Homo sapiens: one gene and its partners. The protein of the gene in region 1 interacts with the protein of each later gene in a pairwise test. Each region holds a gene or a part of one and is shown in the gene's direction. Other genes may lie near its edges.

Region 1 (4,127 bases):
CCTCTACCTTCACTATAACTCTCTTTCTGTCCATCCCCAAGCTGGGTATTATGAGGAGAAAGCACAGCCCCTGATCTGTGTTCCTTCTCTCTCCCCACAGGTGTACTGGGTAGGACCCATGCTGGGCACCATTCTTGCAGGCCTCACCTCGAATTTCTGCTCTCTGGTGCTTCATGAGAAAAGTTTGTGGCCGGTATGACTTGCCACTATGTGGAGATGGTAGAACCTATCAGTATGTCCCATTCTACCTTCTCCATCACCACACAACCCCACGCCTAGGTCCCAAGTCCCTCACCAAGCCCGAGCACAACTGAACCTCTTTCCCCAAACTTTCCTTCCCCATATTATCCTTTTCCCTCTCTTTGATCGGCTGTTTCCCCAGATCTGATCCCAGCACACCCATACCTTTCCCTGGGGATCAAGGCTTAGGGTGTGCTGATCATGGCTGTATTAAAGGACATTAGACCTTCCCATTGCTTCATAGCCATGACTGTTTCCTTCCTTTCAGTACTTCTTGCTATGACCATGTGAGTTAGGAAAGATGAAATACAAGCTGATTCTAAGGTTTAACTACGAGTCCCTTTCTTATTCCTATCCCTCCAACCCCACTCCCAGCCCATGCAGGGATGATAGTGTCTTCTCTCTGTCGGTCCCTGTAGTTTAAAAAGCCAGGCCTAGGGTTTGAAAAGGGAGGTGCTGTCATGGACTGGGGGTAGGGAACCCGGGCTCAGAGAAAGCCAGACGCAGCAGAACTATTTTGTCCCAGAGCTGCAGGGTCCACAGATTCCAGCCCAAACTAGCCAATGGGAGAAAGGCTTCTAATCCCTGGGAACTAAAGAATTCTCTTTAGTTATCCAACTTCCCTGCTGAACCCCACTCCTTACCACTCCCCCCAACCCTTACCCCTGGCAGACTCAGAGGAGGCTGAGGCCCCCAGGAGCTCAGCCCCAAATGCCATGAAGTGAGCTCAGCTTGATGGACCTTCCAAAGAGAGCTGAAGAGTATTCTAATGTTGATGTCAATCAGGACAATGAACCCCAATTTTGACACACACAGAAGGGCAGACTCTTCCAGTCCTGCTGTTCTTCACCCCCACTTCTCGTAGTCTCTCTTGCTGTGACCCCAATCCCACCCTCACTGCCATGGCTCTCTCGGCTCATCTCCCAGTTGAGAAAGGCGGGAAAATCCAGCATTTTTACCATGTAGGGGAGGGGACTTAGCCCTCCACAGCTGTGAAGGGGTTAAGAGGCTGGGCCTGCTACCTCAGCCTGCCCCTCCCAGGGATTAAGAGTCCTCTATAAAGGGGACTGTCCACCCAGACAAGGCCATGGGGGTAGCAGGGACCCAGGCACTGTGACCATCCCCCCTGCCATGTGGGAACTGCGATCAGCCTCCTTTTGGAGGGCCATATTCGCTGAGTTCTTTGCCACCCTCTTCTATGTCTTCTTTGGGCTGGGGTCCTCACTGCGCTGGGCTCCTGGACCCCTGCATGTTCTGCAGGTGGCTATGGCATTTGGCTTGGCCCTGGCTACACTGGTGCAGTCTGTGGGCCACATCAGTGGAGCCCACGTCAATCCTGCAGTCACTTTTGCTTTCCTTGTGGGCTCCCAGATGTCCCTGCTCCGTGCCTTCTGCTATATGGCAGCCCAGCTCCTGGGAGCTGTGGCTGGGGCCGCTGTGCTGTATAGCGTTACCCCACCTGCTGTCCGAGGAAACCTAGCACTCAACACGGTAATGGTTGGCTGAGAGGGGATGGGGAACCTGGTGTCCTGTCTCTCTATTGCCCTGACTCCCTGACTGGTGCAGGTGAATCAGCTCCCCTGGGGTCTGGGACAATATGTGCATGTGTGAGCATGTGTGTGTTGAAGTGGTGAGGATTGACAGGTGGTTTAGAGCTTTAAGGAAGGCATAGGGCCCTGGACTGAGAATTAAGAAACCTGAGTTTGAGTTTCAGCTTTCCTTCCAACTCCTTGCAGGTTCTTAAGGAAACTTATTTTACCTTTCAAGGCCTCAGTTTCCTCATACATGTAAGTGGCTGCAATCATTTCCATCATGAAGGAGCACTGTTAGGAGATGGTAAGATGCAAATACAATGATTATGAAGGGGGTTGTATTATCCTTCCTCTCCACGGACCTGATGCCGTAACGAGATCCTTGCCGGGGAAGTCTTGAGGAGGTAACACTGTGGCAGCCCTCCTGAGCTGTCTCTCTTCTTCTTCCTTTGCACAGTTGCACCCTGCGGTGAGCGTGGGCCAGGCAACCACAGTGGAGATCTTCCTGACGCTCCAGTTCGTGCTCTGCATCTTTGCCACATACGACGAGAGGCGGAATGGCCAACTGGGCTCCGTGGCCCTGGCCGTTGGCTTCTCCCTTGCCCTGGGGCACCTCTTTGGGGTAAGCAGGAAGGAGAGCAACTTCTCATTCAAGGATTCCGGGGCCCCTAAACCTTTCCCAACTTTTAAGGGTTCTTCCTGCCTACTTCACTGTCAAACATGAACATTGTCCATTGCACTCTCTACTGGCACAAAGGAATCAACTCTGCCCTATCCCTCTCTTGTGACTGCTATATCTAGTCCTTCTTGACCCCAAGGTAGAAATGAACGTATCATGGCTAGACATGGGCTTTGCCTATGGATCCATAGTCTGTTCCCAGACAGGGCATCAGTTGCCCTCACCCCATTGCAGGAACCCCTGGAGAGTCATGCAGGCTGTCCCTCTCCACTTGCTGCTGGCTGGAGAAAAGATGGCAGCTCTCAGGGGCAATGTGGGTTGTGGGGAGAGAAGCTGGGGTGCAGTAGGGGGGTGTCTCAGTTACAACTGTCTCTTTTGCAGATGTATTATACTGGTGCAGGCATGAATCCTGCCCGCTCCTTTGCTCCTGCCATTCTCACTGGGAACTTCACTAACCACTGGGTGAGTGAAGGGAGAGGGGCAAGATCCTGAAGCCCTTCTGGATGGTTGTGGACTGCAGGTTCCAGGCTGGATTCCTGCTTTCCTTCTGCGTGTGTTGGCTGCTGTACCAGCACTCAGCTAAGGGGGCTGTCAGAGAGTTTGGCATGCCTGTGTGAGCAGGATTCATGATTTTGCTAGAAGGAGAGGCTCTTGCTCATATTTTTCCTTCTCTGGTTAGTCAGGGAGTATGCACTGAGTATTCACTGGTTGCTGAACTAGCGGGTATGAAGAGAGACAACTAAATATGAGCAGAATAAATTCTGCTCTCAGAGATCAAGATGTGTTGTGAGCACAGATGGGCCTCAGCCCCATTCCAGTTCTAATACGTTATCGGCTTTGTGTGTGACCATGGGCAAATAATCACTCTGTGCTTCAGTTTGTTTTACTATAAAATGGGACATTACGAGAAATGTGTGAAAGTTATATGTGAGAAACATTTAGCACAGAATCTGATATAAAGTAAGCACTCAATAAATATTGGTTATGTTGATGTTGTGCAAGCCAAACATATGGAAATAATTTAAAAATTTTTCAAAGCTGTACACCCATTTTCATAACAGCATTATTCACAATAGCCAAGAGGTAAAAGCAACCCAAGTGTTCCTCAGTGGATGAATGGATAAACAAAATGTGGTATATACATAAATGGAATATTACCTGTAAAAAGGAAGGAAATTGTGACACATACCACAACATGGATGAATCTTGAGGACATTATGCTAAGTGAATAAGCCAGTCACAAAAAGACAAATACTGTATGATTACATTTATATGGGGTATTTAGAGTACTCAAATTCACAGACGCAAAGTAGAAGGATAGTTACCAGGGGCTGATGGGGGTGGGGTGGAATAGGCAGTTGTTTAATGGGTATAGAGTTACAGCTTTGCAAGATGAAAAAGTTCTAGACATAGGTTGCACAACAATGTGAATATACTTAACACTACTAAACTGTACACTTAAAAACATATATATATTTTTTTGAGATGGAGTCTCCCTCTGTCACCCAGGCTGGAGTGCAGTGGAGCTTGATCTCAGGATCTCAGCTCACTGCAACCTCCGCCTCCTGGGTTCAAGCAATTCTCCTGCCTCAGCCTCCTGAGTAGCTGGGATTTCAGGCGCCTGCCACCACGCCCAGCTACTTTTTGTATTTTTAGTAGAGATGGGGTTTCTCCCT
Region 2 (2,819 bases), on another chromosome or scaffold:
TGAAGATAACAGGATTAAGAGATTAGAGTAAAAACAGGCATAAGAAATTATAAAAGTATTATTTGGGAACTGATAAATGTCCATGAAATCTTCACAATTCATGTTTCTCTGCCGCGGCTCCAGCCAGTCCCACCATTTGGGGTCCCCGACTTCCTGCAACATTGCAAGTCATCTTGTTTTAAATTGCTAGATGATCTGTGCAGAGCATGTACTAGGAACAGTCTAGAGGAGGGATCTGGAGGGACTCATTTCCCTGGCAGCTGAGATGGAGATAGGGGTAAATGGGGGTATGAGATAGGTTTAGGGAAATTTAACAGAAAGCCACATCTGTATTGTACTTTACAGGTTCCAAACTGTTTGTATACACATTCTTACCAAATATTCACAATAACTCTGGGGTTAGATATTTTAACCCCATTATCAAGATAAGAGTCTGGAGGGCCAGGCGCGGTGGCTCATGCCTGTAATCCCAGCACTTTGGGAGGGTGAGGCAGGCAGATCATGAGGTCAGGAGATCGAGACCATCCTGGCTCACACGGTGAAACCCCGTCTCTACTAAAAAAATACAAAAAATTAGCCGGGCGTGGTGGCGGGTGCCTGTAGCTACTTGGGAGGCTGAGGCAGGAGAATGGCGTGAACCAGGGAGGCGGAGCTTGCAGTGAGCGAAGATGCGCCACTGCACTCCAGCCTGGGCGACAGAGCAAGACTCCGTCTCAAAAAAAAAAAAAAAAGTCTGGAGGCCAGAGGGGTAAAGTTCTTTGCTCAACATCCTGCAGACCCAAATCCAGGAATTCTGATTTCATATTCTGTGCTCTTTCCCATTGGAGACAAGAGCCATTAACAATATAAAGAAATTCTCAGAGTGCCTCTATTTCCTGGAGCATTAGAAAGTAGAAAATAAATAAAGGTGGGGAAAGAGTAAAAAAGAAGGAAGTAGGAAAGAAATGGAAGAGGGAGAAAGAAAAACAAAGAGGCCATGGGGGTGATAAGGCAAGCACAACATTTATAACACACTAAGTATCTAGCTCAGTGCTATGCATAAGATATGTCCAATATGTGTATCTGAATGGTTTTTAAAATGTATTAATTCATATCTAATAACTATATATTTTAGTTATACAGTAATTTCTCAAACATACAAATGCTTGTAGCTTTCTTCCTTGGACCCAGTATGTAGATTTGGCCATGGGTCTCTCTCAGTTTCCTTACAGATTCTAGCATATGGATTCAGTGCCTGGAACCTGCACATGTTGTGGAGTGGAACATCATTTTATTTTCCATTCTCATAACCCTCAGTGGGCTTCAAGTGATCATCTGCCTCATCAGAGTAGTCATGCAACTATCCAAGATACTGTGTGGAAGCTATTCAGTGATCTTCCAGGTAACAGATTCTCATGGGCACCTGTAGCTCATCCATATTTCCCCCACTTCCCAGGATTCAATGAGGCTTTTTGAAAAGACTCTAGAATTCCATCACTTTCCCCCCATTTCTATTGCCCTCATCTTTATTCAAGCTCTAATATCTCAATTTTTTCTGATATCCCAATGTGTCTTGGCTTATCTATAAGGGTTGAATCAACTCAGTAATTGTAAAATCTGCATTTCTTGTTGTATGGTAAGGCTTCATAAGTGTTTTGAATGAGCAAAGTTTTAGTGTTCTACATAGAGATAACTCAAAGCATGATGAAATTTTACCATTTATCAAGAATTTCCCTGTTCATAAGTTAAGCAAAGGCTCAGAACCTTATCTCATTGAAATAACTTCTCTTCTGAATGCTGCTACATTCAACTAATGAACCTTTATCTCGAGTGCATAGGAGTGCTTTTGAAGAAGAAGGGAAATATGTATTTATCCCATTGAAACTACTTCTACTTCGTCTGCTAAAATACTAATGTTAATTTAGTTATGGTTGAAACTGCTATCAAGAAGTCCAGAGTGAAGAAAAATTATGAATTTAGATGGCTTGTATTTTGTTTAACAACAGAATGTGTAATACCTTTCCTAGCAATTTCTAAGAGATGTTTTTTCTGTTCTATCATATTTTGAATATGAAATATAAGTTTAAGTTGCTATCTGGATTACGGATTACTAATCAAGCCAAGTTTATAACTTTAATCACTTTGTTTTTCCTTTTTTCCTATAGCCTGGAATCATTTGAATAAGGACAAAATGTTTTCCATTATCAAGACATGGCCATCTATCTAAATATTATATCAACTGTGTAGACTTGAGGGCAATATTGAAATGATGGTGCTTTCTGCATTTGGTGTTTATTTGTAAAAAATTTGCAGTCCTCACTGCACATGCAAGTATACCACCCTTCCATTTAGTATGTTTTTTAAGTAATATGCATCAGAAACTTCAGAAATACTTCTGCCCTTTGATCAAACAAATCCATTTCCAAGAATCTGTACTAGGGAAGTAAATAAGAATATGAGAGAAACCTTTATGCAAATATGTATATTGCAACATTATTTAATATTCTGGAAAATTGGAAACACCCCAAAATTCTAAACTCAGAGGAAGGATTAAGTAAAGAGTGGTACATACTGTAAATGTTTTCTGATATTAAAAAAAAAATTAAATAAAAAATAAAGAGTACTACATGGTTGTAAAATTACAGTCATTACAAATGATGTTTTTAAAATTATGAATAATGCTACATCAAAAAGCAGGTTACAAATTCATGTTTACTATATAACTATTTAAAGCAAATGAAACACTAATAGTCAAAGTTTAGGATGAAAACTAAATCTAAAAGGAAATATAACAAAATGCCAATTATGCTTGGTTTGGGGCATTGATGACCCTTCTTCCC
Region 3 (2,440 bases), on another chromosome or scaffold:
ATTAAGTAATGGGGGCCGGGCTCGGTGGCTCACACCTGTAATCCCAGCACTTTAGGAGGCCGAGGCGGGCGGATCATCTGAGCTGAGGAGTTCCATACCAGCCCGGGCAACATGGGGAGACCCGGTCTCTACAAAAAATACAAAAATTAGCCAGGTACAGTAGTGTGCGCCTGTAGTCCCAGCTACTTGGGAGGTTGAGTCAGGAGAAACACAAGCCCAGGTGGCAGAGGTTTCAGTGAGCTGAGATCACACCATTGCACTCTAGCCTGGGCGATGGAGCAAGACTGTCTCAAAAAAAAAAAAAAAATTAAACATGTGGAATAGCTAGATATTATATTAATGGGCTATTATCAAGAAAACTTACCTGGAAAAGTTTTATTCTACCAGCGTCACATTGAGTTGATATTAATAATCTTACGATTTTATACCATATCATGCTTTATACAACTCTTTTTAATCTGTTATCTCATTTAATCCCCCAGTAGCATTTTGAAATAGATACTGTTCAGTTGAGGAAACCAAAGCTAAGGGATTAAGTGCTTTGTTGAAAAGCACCGCAGGCCTGGCGCGGTGGCTCGTGCCTGTAATCTCAGCACTTTGGTGGATCACCTGAGGTCAGGAGTTTGAGACCAGCCTGGCCAACATGGTGAAACCCTGTCTCTACTAAAAATAAAAAAATTAGCCGGGTGTGGTGGCGCATGTCTGCAATCCCAGCTACCTGGGAGGCGGAGGTTGCAGTGAGCCGAGATCGCGCCATTGCACTCTAGCCTGGGCAACAAGAGTGAAACTCTGTCTCAAAAAGAAAAGCACCAGCAAGTTTGTGGCAGGAGTAGAACCTGAATCCAGGTCTTCTGACTGATGTTTATCCCCGTACACCTTACCTAACTGCAGTTCTTTATTGTTCCCATTCCCAGTTTGGATCGCTATTGGTTTTTATTACATATTTAGTTCCCTTTCCCACCTAAGTTAGCTCTAGTCACTGCATTCCTGTTATAATACTTCGATTCTGTTCCAGAGAGAAGTGGAGATCCTGATGTTTCTCAGTGCCATTGTGATGATGAAGAACCGCAGATCCAGTAAGTTTAGTTCACTTCTCAGACTCAAGGTTAGATCTAATGCCCTTTGGAGGTGCTTTGCTTCATGTTAAGAGAGTGGCAATCATTTGGTAAATTTGTCCTACGTTTAATTCCAAGGCTGAATTTGAACTTGGACTTCTATCCCCTCCCTGTCTCCTATTTCAAAGTGCCCCATGAAGAGGGACAAAGAATGGGATATAGGAGTGCACAGCCCAGCCTGACCTGTGACATCTCTGTGTTTCAGTCACTGTGGAGCAACATATAGGCAACATTTTCATGTTTAGTAAAGTGGCCAACACAATTCTTTTCTTCCGCTTGGATATTCGCATGGGCCTACTTTACATCACACTCTGCATAGGTGAGGAGACTGCCTTTCTTTCTTTTTTTTTTTTTGTAAGACTGTGTTGATAGACTTGATTGTGGAAACCACAGTCCCAACAGTTGCAATCCCAAACATGTTTCTCCATACCCTTCTTCCATATCTCATACCTAATGAATTATATATGTAGCTCAGATGATAACAGTTTACAGAGACTGTTATTGTAGAGGTAGGGAATGTGTTGGTGGTCTACATATATCCACAAGTGTGTATTATTTGGGGGCTGAAATCCTTGGGTTGGTTTGGAAGTAAATTCCCTGTGTAAGGCTTTTTATGTTTCCTTCGACATCTTCTTTCTGTATTTAGTGTTCCTGATGACGTGCAAACCCCCCCTATATATGGGCCCTGAGTATATCAAGTACTTCAATGATAAAACCATTGATGTGAGTGCTCTTTCCCCTTTCTGTTTCTTGGGTCCCTTGTGGGTGATTTTGTAGTTGTGCTCTCCATTCACTAGGAGGAACAACAGTGCTTCAAAATGGATGTCACGGGCACTGTGGTTCATTATGAGAGCCGGGGGAGAGGGAACACCAGGATGAGGAATTAGATGCTAAAGTCTGAACCTTCCCAGGAGGCTATGTGGATCCAGCTGACTTTTCTTCCCTGTATTTGGCAGGAGGAACTAGAACGGGACAAGAGGGTCACTTGGATTGTGGAGTTCTTTGCCAATTGGTCTAATGACTGCCAATCATTTGCCCCTATCTATGCTGACCTCTCCCTTAAGTGAGTAGTGCAAAGGGAGGGATGGTGGAAATGGAGATGCTGTGCCTTCCCTCTCACTGTTTTTGGCTTTTCTTTTTCTTTTGGCCTTGATTTTCACACATGGTAACCAAAGGCATCTCCCTCTCCCCTCTTAAATATCTATACTTCCACTTTCCTTGATCCATTATTTTTTTTCAGCATATTAAATAATATATTCTTTTCAGATACAACTGTACAGGGCTAAATTTTGGGAAGGTGGATGTTGGACGCTATACTGATGTTA
Region 4 (3,500 bases), on another chromosome or scaffold:
TCTTGGCTTGGGGAGCTCCCCTGCAACCTTGCCAGGGTCGCAGGGCAGGCCATGGCAGGCACAAAACAAGATGGAATAGGGGCGGCAAAATGTCTTCTAATTTAGCTCTTGAAGACTCACTGGGCCTTTTTAATTCCATTGCTAAGGTTTAAAGGACAGCGCACACCCCCGTGTCTGGTTGGAAGAGCAAGCAGCTCAGGGCCTCATCCCTGCTTGCCTGCCCTTTAGCACAACTGAACGAAGAGCCTTGACAACACGTTGGCCACGTGCACCTGTCAGTTCTGTGTCTGTGACGGGCACCCAGATGTGAGGTCTCTCCCTGTTTCTCACTGTCTTTGTTGTCAATGTAGTTGGAGACAGAACTTGAACCAAATCTCGTTTTTGTAATGTGAGCCTCTGAATCTTTACATGGGGATGCTCCTGAAGAACCTTTTACTAGAATGTCCCTATCAAACATGTCTATTTTTCTACAGTTGTTAACACAGTTTAACAGTGTATTTTGTGTCAACTGTTAAAATTTGGAACTGAAAGTTCATTGAGACTGATTTTCTAAGCAGCGAGTAGTGAGTGAATGGTGTTTTCCATTAAGACAGCTCAACAAAATTGACCCCACAATTTCCACTCATTCTATTCCGCAATATCCAGTCCTCATTCCCTCAGTCACTCCATTAGCAAACCAAGTGCAATGAGAATTTTTTAAAAGTCTCTTTTAATACAACAGTATCCATAACTAATGAAGATCACTCTCAACTAGATCCTTTGGTCTGTTTGGTTAATGTATTTGAGTCATTTTTCCATAAAGCATGGTGGGATCCGTGAGCCAGATAAGAATTTGGAATTTAAGGGTTATGGTTTGCCACAGTTGACCCCAATTTGACAGAACAAAGTGCTCCTGGATGGAAGGGCAGGTTCAGCTGCAAGCATGACCCCCCACCACAAGGCTGCTGAGTTCCTCGGATTCTCACCTCCACCCACCCCAACGTGCTCTCCAACTGGAAGAGCACCCATTCATTTATAAATCAACTTTATGGAACCAATAAAATCATTTCTGTTTTAGCTGTCCCCTGGGTAAGCTATACTCTTTTACATTAACATAGCAAATGTCAACTTTTCTGTTCCTTCAAACATGGCCTTCCAGCCTGGTTGTTCCAGCATATATCCCCTCTATGTCCATGAGGCAGAACTCTCTCTTCCCCCACTCCGTTCTTCCATCTATCCCCATCCTTTGCTGTTTCCCTGGTTCTCCAGTTCCAATTCTATTGTTTTAGTTCAGTACCTTATGTTCCCTAACAGAAATCCAGCTGCAAATGTCAACCTATTTCTTAAGCACAATTTTCTCTTGCAGGTCTAACCAAGCTAGGGCTCTGAAATGTCTATTTTTCACTGCACTCCAATTTAAAAATTATTCATGACTTCATTTAATAGTCTAAATTTTGAATTCTCCAGAGCAACATTCTTATGCTTTCCATCCCTACATTTTCTTACATTTCAGTTTTCTTACTTTTTTCCCCTTTGCTTTTTTATTTAGATTTAAGCCAGTGTCTTTGGGATATTTAGAAACTGCTTACAAAGGTGGGAACTGGTGGACAGAGAAAGGGGGCATAAGAATGCTATTAGAAAACTACCTGAACTCACCAGAAGAATGGGAAATCATTTGATTTGCTGAGAGAATACAATTAAAATACTCATAGTAAATCATTTCCAAAACAGTTTGCTAATAGTCTGGCTACTCTTCAGTCTTTCTTTCCTTGACTTGGGTGATACTCTGTATGATTTAAAAATGTCAGGAAGGTAGTTGAAAGTTCAGTGTCCTCTATATATTGTAAACATTATCTTCAAGGATGATTTCCTTTCAATGGATGGCTTTAACATTGAAAAACATAGGTAACATATACATAATAGATGATTCATTGATATTACTTTACAATACACTAAAATAACATTATCTTGTTTCTGAACTTTATGGCCAACCGGTATCTAAGAAAATGTTAGCCTTTAATTTAAAATTGAGTAAAGCACGCCTCTTCCTAATATTTCTGCCTTTAATGTCTTGAGTGCTTTAGATGCAGAGTGTCATCTAGAAGTCAAAATTCTGTCAGAAGGCTGCTAAGAGATTTTGATAAATCACAGAATATATAATAATAACCCAACAATATTTTACCCAACATGGTGTGGTGTTTGAGAGCATTAAGAGCACTTGTACAAATTATCTTATTTCATTCTAATTCACCATGAGAGGTTGAGTATTATAATTTACATTTTATAGAGGGAAAACTAGGGTTTGGGCAAATTGGCCAAGTTTAAAGGCCAGTGAATCATAGCTCCTTGTCTCAAATCCAGGTCACAGGGCCCTAAGCTGTGGGCTATTTTTACTACAAAAAATTTCAGCAAACCAAATCTGCTAAAAAAAAAAAAATCTGGCCTGCTGCCTGTTATTGTACCACTTGTGAGCTAAGAGCAATTTTTACATTTTTTAATAATTGGGGGAAAAAAAAGAAAAGAAGAATATTTTGAGACATGTGAAAATCATCCTAAATTCAAATTTCAATGTCCACAAACAAAGTTTTATTGGAACACAGCCACAGCCATTTGTCTGTGTATTGCCTATGGCTGCTTCCACATGCACTCACAGAGCTGAGTAATTACAACAGAGACCGTGTGGCCAGCAAAGATTGAAATATTTACTATCTGGCCCTGTATAAAAAAAGTTTGCTGACCCCTGTACTGTACTGTTAAGTACTATTGGTACTATTAAGTACTAGTAATAGTACTATTAATAATAGTATGTAAGAGTACTAAGTACTATGAAATATTGTACTGTACTCTTAAGAGAGTCCTAGGCAATATAGAAGAATGACTTTTTTTCTAGCATAAATTATTGAAGTCACTCATAAGTCTGTTCAAAATAACATAACTCTTTTTTTTCGGTTGTCAAAGAGACAACTGCTTCACAAGACTTAGAGAGCCCAGTCATTCAGTTAGGGTCTCAAAGGAAGAATCCTTCCTTTTCATGCCATTCCTCCAGAGTGGCAAATAGAGTCAACAGCCAGCCAGGATCTAGCGGTCAACTCAGAAAGTGGATACAGTAAAATTACTCCTTAATGAACTACAGAGAAATGGGCATTCCCAGCCCAGCCGCTGAAATATTGCTTCAGTGGCACCCTCAGGCGTTGGATGATGTACATAGCTCAGGCTGCCAGTCTCTGCTCAGCAAAGCAGCCCAGACCTGCAGTGGTTGCCACACATCAAACCCGCCTCGCTCCTCCACATGGCTTCTCTCTTAGGCTCTCTTGGAGGAGAGTTAAATAGGTGGCCCAGATGTCTCCCTCTGTTTTCTTGCTAGTTTTCTCTAGCCTACAGTTTACAACTGATCAAGGTGATGAACGTGAACCTGGAACTAGCTCATGTTTAATTGCGCTAGTTTTTGCTCTCTCTAGCCACTAAGCTAGAAGTTTAATGTGTAATTAAAGAACTAAATGCTTCTTATGGAAAACCAAAAG
Region 5 (3,500 bases), on another chromosome or scaffold:
ACTCTATTGAACTTTTTTCTTGATTTGCTATAAGAATGCTGTTGGGTTTCCACTCAACATTTTTTTCTTTTGTATCCAGAGGAGTTTCTTCCTGTTTCTTCTTTATCAGAACCTGTCTTCCCAGAGATTCTTGCTTACTGACCAGTGACCTTACCTTTCTCTGCAGACGCCTTCTGGCAAGAGGGGAGAGCCTCTGGAACAGTGTACAGTGGGGAGGAGAAGCTCACTGAGCTCCTTGTGAAGGTGAGTGTCCAGTTCTTGAGGGAAGCCTGTGAGGTCTGTGCCAGTTTACATGACCTCCTTTTTTTCCCTTACTTTTGTAATTAGAAAAATTACTTAAGGAAAGCTTATTGGTACAATAAAACCATAAAAGTTTCTCTTCACCCAAACATAGGCGAATATGTATAATATTATCAAAGACATCTTCAGTCTGTAAAATAGTAAAATGTTATTTATGTTTTCAGTCTTTGCAGATGTCCTGTCTAGAAGGCAGATTACTAGGGAAGGTAGTCCTGTCAGATGAGATTTTTGTGGTGAGACAGATTTTGTTTGATAAGAAGAGATAAGATAGGGAAACTCTTTCATAATTTTCTCAAATCATGTGACCCAAGATGAGCAGTGGTCTCATGTATACTTCAAATAATTCTCATTCTTAGCTTCTTCCATTTCTAATCAAATTTATTTTTATTTTATTTTATTATTTTTACAGACAAAGTCTCACTCTGTCACACAGGCTGGAGTGGAGTGGTGTAATCATGGCTCACTTCAGCCTTGACCTCTTTGGCTCAAGTGATCCTCCCACCTCAGCCTCCTGAGTAGTTGGGACTACAGGCGTGCATCATGACACCCAGCTAATTTTTGTATTTTTTTGTTGGAGATGGGGTCTCACTCTGTTGCCCAGGTTGGTCTTCAACTCCCAGCCTCAAGTGATCCTCCTGCCTTGGCCTCTGAAAGTGTTGAGATTACAGCTGTGAACCACTGCACTCGGCCCTCATATTTATTTTTGAAACTCCACTTCATCATATAAAATTGGGGTTGTACTGATGATCTCTAAGGTCTTTGTGTTTGATTATTATAAATATGAAACTGTCCCTTACTAAATAAATATGGCAGGTTTTGCATAAGTTGGTGTAATGCTCTGATCTTCTGTGCTTAAAATCTTTCAGTAGCTTCCCATTATCTACAGGATGAAACTCAGGTTCTTATGCAGCAGAGAATACAAGTTTCTTCATGAGCCAGCTCCCACTTATTTTTTCTTAACTACTTCTCTTCATTTCCCACATAAACACTAATCCTGCCTTTTCTCTTTACTAAATGTGTCATGCTTTTACGTTGTTTTCCTTCCCTTCCATCATTCCTCTTGTTCCAAATGATGATTCCTACTCATCTCTCAAAGTTCCACTCAGCAGACACCTCTAGATCACTCAGGATGTTAGTTGTTCCCTCTTCAGGGTCCCTTAGCACTCTGTACACACACCTGATATTGCAGTCGATAACAACAGCTGCTTTGTGCCAGACACTCTACTAAGTGCTTCACATGCATTATGTTATTTAATTATTGCTAGAACACTAGAAGATAGCTACCATAACAACTTCTGCGTATGAAGAAACAACCTTAGATTATGTGACCTACACAGCTGAAAGTAATAGGCAAAGCTTAGACTTCCTCCTGGGTCGGTTTGGTGTTATAGTCTGCGCTTTTAACCATATTTATACTTCTTTCCTCATCACATTGTAAAATTATTTATTTACATGTCTGTCTCCTCTGCTATGTTTTGATCTTTTGGTTGAGGAATATATCTTATCTTTTTTTCCAGTTTATATTGTTGTGCCTAATACTTAGAAACTGTTGTTTAGTGCATGATTCTTTGTCCTGTATAGTGTAATAGTTTTGATTTCACATCTGCTTGCATTTTTTTGCAGGCTTATGGAGATTTTGCATGGAGTAACCCCCTGCATCCAGATATCTTCCCAGGACTACGCAAGATAGAGGCAGAAATCGTGAGGATAGCTTGTTCCCTGTTCAATGGGGGACCAGATTCGTGTGGATGTGTAAGTATATGCAAGGGGCATCCAATAGCCTTATTTTTTAGGTTAAAATAGAAGAGTTTTTAATAAATATTAATTATATTTTAAAAAATAAAAAATATTAAAAATATTTTACTACACAAGAAATATTTGATCATTGTAGAAAGGTCATTTTACTACACAAGGAATATTTGATCATTGTAGAAAGATCCTAATTAACTGCAGTTTTAAATGTTACTTGTAATTTTGTAACCTAGACAATGTCAACATTTTGGTATATATTCTTCTAGATATTTTTATTTTCACCTTTTTATTTTGAAAAACTTTGAACCTACATTGAGTTGCTAGGATGGCTTAAAGAACACCTTAGATTCACTAAATGTAAATATGTTGCCATATCTGCTCTCTACACTCTTTCCCTCCCTACCCGCTTCTTCCCTCATCCCCCACCTGCATACCTACCATTCCCCTATTTATCTGTGTATACTTTTGTTGTTCCATCCAGCAGTGTTTTTAGTGTACTTCTGGTTTTACCTGAGCCAAAGTTTAATTTATTATTTTGCTGTAAACTGAACCTCATTTAGTTGCTATTAGGCATAAAGAAAGGGGGAGGACATCATTATATTTAAAGAAACACATGAGGATTCTTTGTTTTACCTGTTCTTTCAAGTAGATGGTTGTTAGTTTTCGTAAACTATGATAGATAAACTTCTGTTTAGATCTGTTGTCTTTAGAAAAAACGAAATCTCAGGTTATGTAGGATAGATAGATTTAACTCAATATGCTGCAATGGTGTCCTAGAGGTGCTAATCCTATCAGATACTCATCATATTTGCAGTCATTATAAAGACTGCAGATTTAATTATTGAAGGGCCCATTCGAAGAGCACCTAATTTAGTTTCTTTTTTTTTTTCCAGGAAGCATTGTTTTTGTTTTGTTTTTCTAATATGTTGGCGCCATGAAAATCATCATGTTCAAATATTAGTAGTAATAAAGGTGATATGCCTGGCATTCATTTTCAAAGCAAAATACTGAAACTGTTAAAAACAGAACCACCCATAATACAGCAGCAGTTTCCCTTAGAGTACTGAGGTGAACAGGGTGACTTTCAGAGGGAAGATGATAATGTACTTACAGTATATTCTCCTATGCCATTAGACTCTTGAAGAACTTGTAAGAGGCCAGAGTGAATAGCCACAGAACAGTTTGGCCTTATCTGGTAAATTTGAAGATACATATATCTTATGACCCAGAAATTCTGCTACTAGGACATACTCTAGAAAAATTAGTACACATATATATCAGGATATATGGACATTAATATTCATAGCAATGTTATTCATGATAGCTAAAAACTGGAAGTAATTCAAATGCCTATCCACAGGACACAGATGAATAAATTGTGGAATGCTGTGTGTGCCTCAATCCATTGTAGCTCTTATTCAGATTGATGTACAAATTGCCTCATCCAT
Region 6 (3,956 bases), on another chromosome or scaffold:
ATGTGACAGATATAAATTCTTTTTAAAACTCTTAGCAAGCTAATCTACTGAGACATTAATTTCAGTCTTGATCTTGCTGTTATAAGAGACTGGAACAAATAAAAAGGTAATTTCTTATGGTCCACCATCTCAAGAACAGCTAACATCTTGAATGATAAGGTCTAGGCTCTTCCTGCATCTCTCTCTTTCCTCACCCCCAAACCCAAACAACATACACTAGTAACAGCTTCTTGTTGTTTCAGGGGCCACCCTAAAGAAGAAACCCCTCCACCTCCACCACTGGCCTTCATCTTGAGGATTAGGTAACAGAGAAACTATGTTGCAATTGCTCCATAAGGGGAGTGGGGAGCTGGCACTGGTTTAGGAAGAAGGCAAGTGGCCAGACCTAAGGGCTGAATGACTTCCTCCGGGCTGGGAAGGGTTTCGGAGTTTCCAGGAATGGAAATTGTCCCTGGCTTGTATGCAGTCCGTGTGTGTGTGTGTGTGTGTGTGTGTGTGTGTGTGTGTGTGTGTAGCAGGTGGAGTGGGGAGAGGTGCATGAGGTGTCTGTAAAGGGGTGTTCTGGGGCCTGGGCTCACCAAACACCCCCTTTCCCCTCACTCCTGCGCAGCTGGCTTGCAGGCTAAGGAGCTGTGCCCTTCAGTGGTACCTCAAGGGTCATGAACTAGTAGCATCAAGACGGGGGTGGGGTGGGGGGAACCCCTCCCCCAATTTTTGAGACCCCACAGCCACAGAGAGAAGGGAGGGGGAACCTCAGAATGTGACTAATGAATTTCCCGCCAACATTGGCAGGCGGGAGCTGAGCCAGATTTCTTCAATTTGCGAAATTAAAAGACATGTGACGCCTCTTGCCCGAGTAGGTGCAGCGAATTCACTTTAGTTAGACTTTTCCTGAGAGCCGGTCTGTGTAGCGAGAAGGGTGCTGGGAGATGGGGGAATGGGGGATGGAGGAAGTTATAGCGGAGCCTAAGGGGCCAGTGCCGCTCTTCCTGCCAATTTTCGTCTTTAGCTCAGCGTCCGGAGCTCGCTGGTTGAGGGAACGACCCCGCGCGCGTCCGCCCGGCCGGCTCCGACACAAACACACGCACGTGCGCCCCGCCCCCGCCGCGCGCACGCGCCCCGAGGCTCCGGCGGCGGCGACGGGCGCGCGCGCGGTGCTCGCTGCCCCCACGCCGCTCCCTCCGCTGGGATCGCTGCGCCTCCGGCTCCCCGCACCGATCCGCGCCAGGCCTGCGGACCTGGAGGCAGCGACCGCGGTCGGTGGGCTCCGGCGGGCTCAGCGGTCGAGGCGGTGGCAGGGTGAGCGGAGCGGGGCCCCGCAAGTCCCCGGGAGGCGACGGTGCCGGGCGCGGGCCCCTGCGTAAGGTGGGCGCAGTGACAGGCCGGCCGGTGAGGCGCCGCCGGGAGAGGCCGCGACGGAGCTCCCAGACCGGCCATGGGCTGAGACACGTCCTCGCCGAGCAGGTGCAGTGACCGGAGGCCCCGGGGGGAGCCCGCCCCTACAGGCCCCGGGGACCCTCAACCCCGACCGGACGCGTCCTACCCAGCCCGGTGCCCTGTTGACCTTCCCTCAGCTCCTCCCAAAAGGCACACCGACCCCACCTCCAAACCCTGCCCGTGCCATCCCTGTGACTCCCAGCAGTCCCTGCCATCCTGTGCATACCTGCAGCCTGCACCCCTGTGACCCCAGCCCAGTAGGCCCTCGGGCCACCTCCTCTTCGGCCGATATTTACAGCCCACTGCCTGCACAGTGCCTGGAAACTACCCAGCATCTCTCTCTCCTAGCCCAAAGGGGGTGGAGGTAAGGGTGGGAGGGGAAGTGGGAGAGGGTGTCCTTCCCTCTGGAGTCCTTGGTGACCACAAACCCATCCTCTTTCTCTCAAGTGACCCTTCCGTACCCCACCAGAACATGCCCGGGTGACCTCCTCCCAGATCTTCCTTGTGGCCTTCCTCGCCCACTCCAGTGACACTATGCACCCCCACCGTGACCCGAGAGGCCTCTGGCTCCTGCTGCCGTCCTTGTCCCTGCTGCTTTTTGAGGTGGCCAGAGCTGGCCGAGCCGTGGTTAGCTGTCCTGCCGCCTGCTTGTGCGCCAGCAACATCCTCAGCTGCTCCAAGCAGCAGCTGCCCAATGTGCCCCATTCCTTGCCCAGTTACACAGCACTACTGGACCTCAGTCACAACAACCTGAGCCGCCTGCGGGCCGAGTGGACCCCCACGCGCCTGACCCAACTGCACTCCCTGCTGCTGAGCCACAACCACCTGAACTTCATCTCCTCTGAGGCCTTTTCCCCGGTACCCAACCTGCGCTACCTGGACCTCTCCTCCAACCAGCTGCGTACACTGGATGAGTTCCTGTTCAGTGACCTGCAAGTACTGGAGGTGCTGCTGCTCTACAATAACCACATCATGGCGGTGGACCGGTGCGCCTTCGATGACATGGCCCAGCTGCAGAAACTCTACTTGAGCCAGAACCAGATCTCTCGCTTCCCTCTGGAACTGGTCAAGGAAGGAGCCAAGCTACCCAAACTAACGCTCCTGGATCTCTCTTCTAACAAGCTGAAGAACTTGCCATTGCCTGACCTGCAGAAGCTGCCGGCCTGGATCAAGAATGGGCTGTACCTACATAACAACCCCCTGAACTGCGACTGTGAGCTCTACCAGCTGTTTTCACACTGGCAGTATCGGCAGCTGAGCTCCGTGATGGACTTTCAAGAGGATCTGTACTGCATGAACTCCAAGAAGCTGCACAATGTCTTCAACCTGAGTTTCCTCAACTGTGGCGAGTACAAGGAGCGTGCCTGGGAGGCCCACCTGGGTGACACCTTGATCATCAAGTGTGACACCAAGCAGCAAGGGATGACCAAGGTGTGGGTGACACCAAGTAATGAACGGGTGCTAGATGAGGTGACCAATGGCACAGTGAGTGTGTCTAAGGATGGCAGTCTTCTTTTCCAGCAGGTGCAGGTCGAGGACGGTGGTGTGTATACCTGCTATGCCATGGGAGAGACTTTCAATGAGACACTGTCTGTGGAATTGAAAGTGCACAATTTCACCTTGCACGGACACCATGACACCCTCAACACAGCCTATACCACCCTAGTGGGCTGTATCCTTAGTGTGGTCCTGGTCCTCATATACCTATACCTCACCCCTTGCCGCTGCTGGTGCCGGGGTGTAGAGAAGCCTTCCAGCCATCAAGGAGACAGCCTCAGCTCTTCCATGCTTAGTACCACACCCAACCATGATCCTATGGCTGGTGGGGACAAAGATGATGGTTTTGACCGGCGGGTGGCTTTCCTGGAACCTGCTGGACCTGGGCAGGGTCAAAACGGCAAGCTCAAGCCAGGCAACACCCTGCCAGTGCCTGAGGCCACAGGCAAGGGCCAACGGAGGATGTCGGATCCAGAATCAGTCAGCTCGGTCTTCTCTGATACGCCCATTGTGGTGTGAGCAGGATGGGTTGGTGGGGAGATTCTGCCCCAGGAGAGGTAATGCACCCCTGAAGGATATGAGGGGATGGAAGAGAGGGCTGGCTGCCCAAGGGAATGGATTCCTCCTGACCTCAAGGGAATTGGTCCCAGGTACAACAGAGAGCAAGACCCCAAACAGGGCGTGGCTGCCACGATTTTCAAATGGGGGTATATTAATCCTCAGGCAAATGCTACACCCGTACCCAAAGCCCTGCCAATTCTCAGTGTGGTAGAGGAAGAGAAGCATGTCTGAGTTGGATGGGAATGAGGAAGGAGTGAGGGGAAGAACAGATTCCCTAAACTTTCATGAGGTCATCCCTAGCTCCTTAAGAGAAAAACATTTAGAAAAAAAAATTTTTTCTATCTCTGCCCACCCACACCTGTGATGTTGTGTGTGTTGGGGGAGCTTCCACAGGAGCCACACTGGGGAAAAGCTGTAGTATCTTCTTTGTTTAGCAAGTCAAACTTCACAGCTGGGGAAGT
Region 7 (2,575 bases), about 74 Mb from region 1:
CTTTGCTGAAAATATTGTACGTGATTTTTCTTCATTGTTATAGTAGTATTTTTCAATATTTTCATGATTCTAACATGTACTTTCTGAGTTTTTTCCTAGTAGCTATAATATGGTTAGTTTAATGTGGTTACACTAAAGATAAAATTACAATTTGTAGCGCGGACACAGTGAAATGCGCGACTTTTCATGGGCACTACTTGGCATTAAGGTTGACTAAAAGAAGGCTCCTCTCAGTGTGACCCCTGGGGAGTGGGGCTTGAAGTCCTGTGCCCCGGGCCTGGCTGGCCATTTCACCCTAGTGTCTGTAAATAAGAATGAACATAGAAGGATCCTCATTCATAAAAAGCAGACCAAAATGAATACCAGCAGTTATCTTTGCATAGGAAGGCAGTGGTTAATGTCCTTAACTTCACTTTTAAAATATTAACATAGCCTTTCATCCTTTAGCAATTGGCCTTCCTGGGGCTGGCTGCTGCCCCTCCCTGCAGGGTGTGCCAGGTGCAGGCCTGTCACCCCGGAGCATGGGTGGGATGGGCTGCTTTAAGGAGACAGGTGGAGTCTTACAGGTATTCGGTGAGAGGGCCCTGGCCCAGACCTGGAGCTGGACTCCCCAGGGTGTACCCTTTCCACTCTCGCTGTCACCAGGAGATTAGATGACTCCTGAGTCCTGTACCCTAGACTCCATGTAGTTGACAGTCATCCTGAAAGCCAGATGTGGCAGGAAAGTGCACACACATCGAGCACCCAGACACGTGGCAGGCAGCACAACAGCAGCAGGAGATGAGAGCACGCTGCGTGGAGCTGACTCCAGGTGGCCCAGCTGCCAGCACACTCACTTGCTGAGCGGGAGGGCGCGCGCCTCCCTCTGGAGGGAGGGAAGGCATCACAGAGAAAAGGAAGAAGAGGTTTCTCTAGGAAGGTGCTGAGAGTGGGGCGTAGGAGCGCATATAGAGGATGAGAGAGTGGCTGGGGCTTTGCAGGAAATGTGCGTGATGTTAACAGGGAACCAGAGTTTGAGGGAGGGGCCCTCCTGCAGGCAGCTCTCCCCGGTCCTGAGGAGTCACTGGGAGGCTCACCGGGGCCTGCCATGCGCCTCTTGATAACCCTGTATAACTGACTGAGCCGGCAGTCTTGGAACTGTCCAGGCTCAGCAAACAGGATTTCTTAGGTAAAAGCACTCGTACATTTGGAACTGTAATTAAAATGATGGATCTCTGCTGTTCAAAAAGAGAACTCAAAGTCCTACAGCGCGGTGCCTCCTGTTGTGTCTTCCTTTCCTTCCCTCAGACAAGCTTCCTGGAGGAGACTCCATTTATTAAGCCAAAGGTGGTCTCGCTTTGCCTTGTGTGAGGATACTTGTTAATTTTAAAAAAGTTAAATGCTGTGTCGCACCCTGCTTCCAGACCATCAGTGCAGTAGAAGAATGAATGAATGTCTTGTTGATTTCTTACACATTTGTCATATTTAAATGTAAAAAATGGATAAGGCCAGGTGCAGTGGCTCATGCCTGTAATCCCAACACTTCGGAAGGCCAAGGCAGGAAGATCGCTTGAGCCCAAGAATTCGAGACTAGTCTGGGCAACATAGCAAGACCCCATCTCTTAAAAACATATTTTTTAATTAGCTGGGCATGGTGGTGCATGCCTGTCATCCTAGCTCCTTGGGACACTGAGGTGGGAGGATTGCTTGAGTCCAGGAGGATGTGTTTGCAGTGAGCCATGTCTGCACCACTGCTCTCCAGCCTGGGCGACAGAGTGACACCTCCTTTCAGAAAAGAAAGAAAAAATAGGATTTTTCAGCCAACAAGAAATTCGTTTAAAGTTTTACAAATATGTGTAATTCATCCAATTAAAAGCAATCCTGGAGTTTTATTATGATTAAAAGAAAGTGTCGGCCGGGCCTGGTGCCTCACGCCTGTAATCCCAGCATTTTGGGAGGCTGAGGCGGGTGGATCACGAAGTCAAGAGATCGAGACTATCCTGGCCAACATGCTGAAACCCCGTGTCTACTAAAAATACAAAAATTAGCTGGGCGTGGTGGCGGGTTCCTGTAGTCCCAGCTACTCGGGAGGCTGAGGCAGGAGAATCACTTGAACCCGGAAGGCAGAGGTTGCTGTGAGCCAAGATCACATTCTTTTCTATGACATGGAGGAGTCCTTTCTTGATAATGGATGTATTTTTTAAACTATCCCAAATCCCAGAAGGATTAGTTAGCAAATGCCATTGTTGATTTCTTTGATACATTGCAAATTAATGTTTTTCTTTATCTTGCAGAAATTGATGTTCATTATTATTTGTGTAATTGTTTTGCTTGTGATCCTTGGAATTATCCTAGCAACAACATTGTCCTAGCAACCATATCCCAAGAGCCATTTATCCTTGAGACTCAGACCACATCTGCAACCAAATCAGCATCCTGTCATTTCGTGAATGAATCTCAGACGCTGTAACCCGGCATCGAGTGCTGACCTTGTAATGTATGAGTTCACGGAAGAAGCACAACCGAACGTCTTGTTCAGTGACAGCGCCGTAAGCACAGTGGGTGTGATGCGTGACCCTGAATGACACACTACAGA

The links.
Region 2: the proteins of MIP (region 1) and TM4SF18 interact in binary tests that used the Homo sapiens proteins (3 or more experiments, as listed by UniProt).
Region 3: the proteins of MIP (region 1) and TMX2 interact in binary tests that used the Homo sapiens proteins (3 or more experiments, as listed by UniProt).
Region 4: the proteins of MIP (region 1) and KCNJ6 interact in binary tests that used the Homo sapiens proteins (3 or more experiments, as listed by UniProt).
Region 5: the proteins of MIP (region 1) and SGPL1 interact in binary tests that used the Homo sapiens proteins (3 or more experiments, as listed by UniProt).
Region 6: the proteins of MIP (region 1) and AMIGO1 interact in binary tests that used the Homo sapiens proteins (3 or more experiments, as listed by UniProt).
Region 7: the proteins of MIP (region 1) and STX2 interact in binary tests that used the Homo sapiens proteins (3 or more experiments, as listed by UniProt).

The regions. Positions count from the first base shown.
Region 1 is NC_000012.12:56,451,858-56,455,984, reverse strand, and holds the start of MIP (lens fiber major intrinsic protein), read left to right. Parts: upstream 1-1,327; 5' UTR 1,328-1,371; coding exon 1,372-1,731; intron 1,732-1,937; exon of another isoform or gene 1,938-2,073; coding exon of another isoform or gene 2,074-2,076; intron 2,077-2,229; coding exon 2,230-2,394; intron 2,395-2,832; coding exon 2,833-2,913; intron 2,914-4,127. UniProt on the Homo sapiens protein: Aquaporins form homotetrameric transmembrane channels, with each monomer independently mediating water transport across the plasma membrane along its osmotic gradient.
Region 2 is NC_000003.12:149,320,818-149,323,636, reverse strand, and holds part of TM4SF18 (transmembrane 4 L6 family member 18), read left to right. Parts: intron 1-1,200; coding exon 1,201-1,381; intron 1,382-2,144; coding exon 2,145-2,159; 3' UTR 2,160-2,819.
Region 3 is NC_000011.10:57,736,593-57,739,032, forward strand, and holds part of TMX2 (thioredoxin-related transmembrane protein 2 isoform 1 precursor), read left to right. Parts: intron 1-1,015; coding exon 1,016-1,076; intron 1,077-1,193; exon of another isoform or gene 1,194-1,320; coding exon 1,321-1,434; intron 1,435-1,761; coding exon 1,762-1,838; intron 1,839-2,071; coding exon 2,072-2,178; intron 2,179-2,381; coding exon 2,382-2,440.
Region 4 is NC_000021.9:37,619,458-37,622,957, reverse strand, and holds part of KCNJ6 (G protein-activated inward rectifier potassium channel 2), read left to right. Parts: 3' UTR 1-3,500. UniProt on the Homo sapiens protein: Inward rectifier potassium channels are characterized by a greater tendency to allow potassium to flow into the cell rather than out of it.
Region 5 is NC_000010.11:70,857,448-70,860,947, forward strand, and holds part of SGPL1 (sphingosine-1-phosphate lyase 1), read left to right. Parts: intron 1-166; coding exon 167-243; intron 244-1,923; coding exon 1,924-2,052; intron 2,053-3,500. UniProt on the Homo sapiens protein: Cleaves phosphorylated sphingoid bases (PSBs), such as sphingosine-1-phosphate, into fatty aldehydes and phosphoethanolamine. Elevates stress-induced ceramide production and apoptosis.
Region 6 is NC_000001.11:109,506,928-109,510,883, reverse strand, and holds the start of AMIGO1 (amphoterin-induced protein 1 precursor), read left to right. Parts: upstream 1-1,156; 5' UTR 1,157-1,464; intron 1,465-1,884; 5' UTR 1,885-1,971; coding exon 1,972-3,453; 3' UTR 3,454-3,956. UniProt on the Homo sapiens protein: Promotes growth and fasciculation of neurites from cultured hippocampal neurons. May be involved in fasciculation as well as myelination of developing neural axons. May have a role in regeneration as well as neural plasticity in the adult nervous system.
Region 7 is NC_000012.12:130,791,676-130,794,250, reverse strand, and holds part of STX2 (syntaxin-2), read left to right. Parts: intron 1-2,273; coding exon of another isoform or gene 2,274-2,382; 3' UTR 2,383-2,575.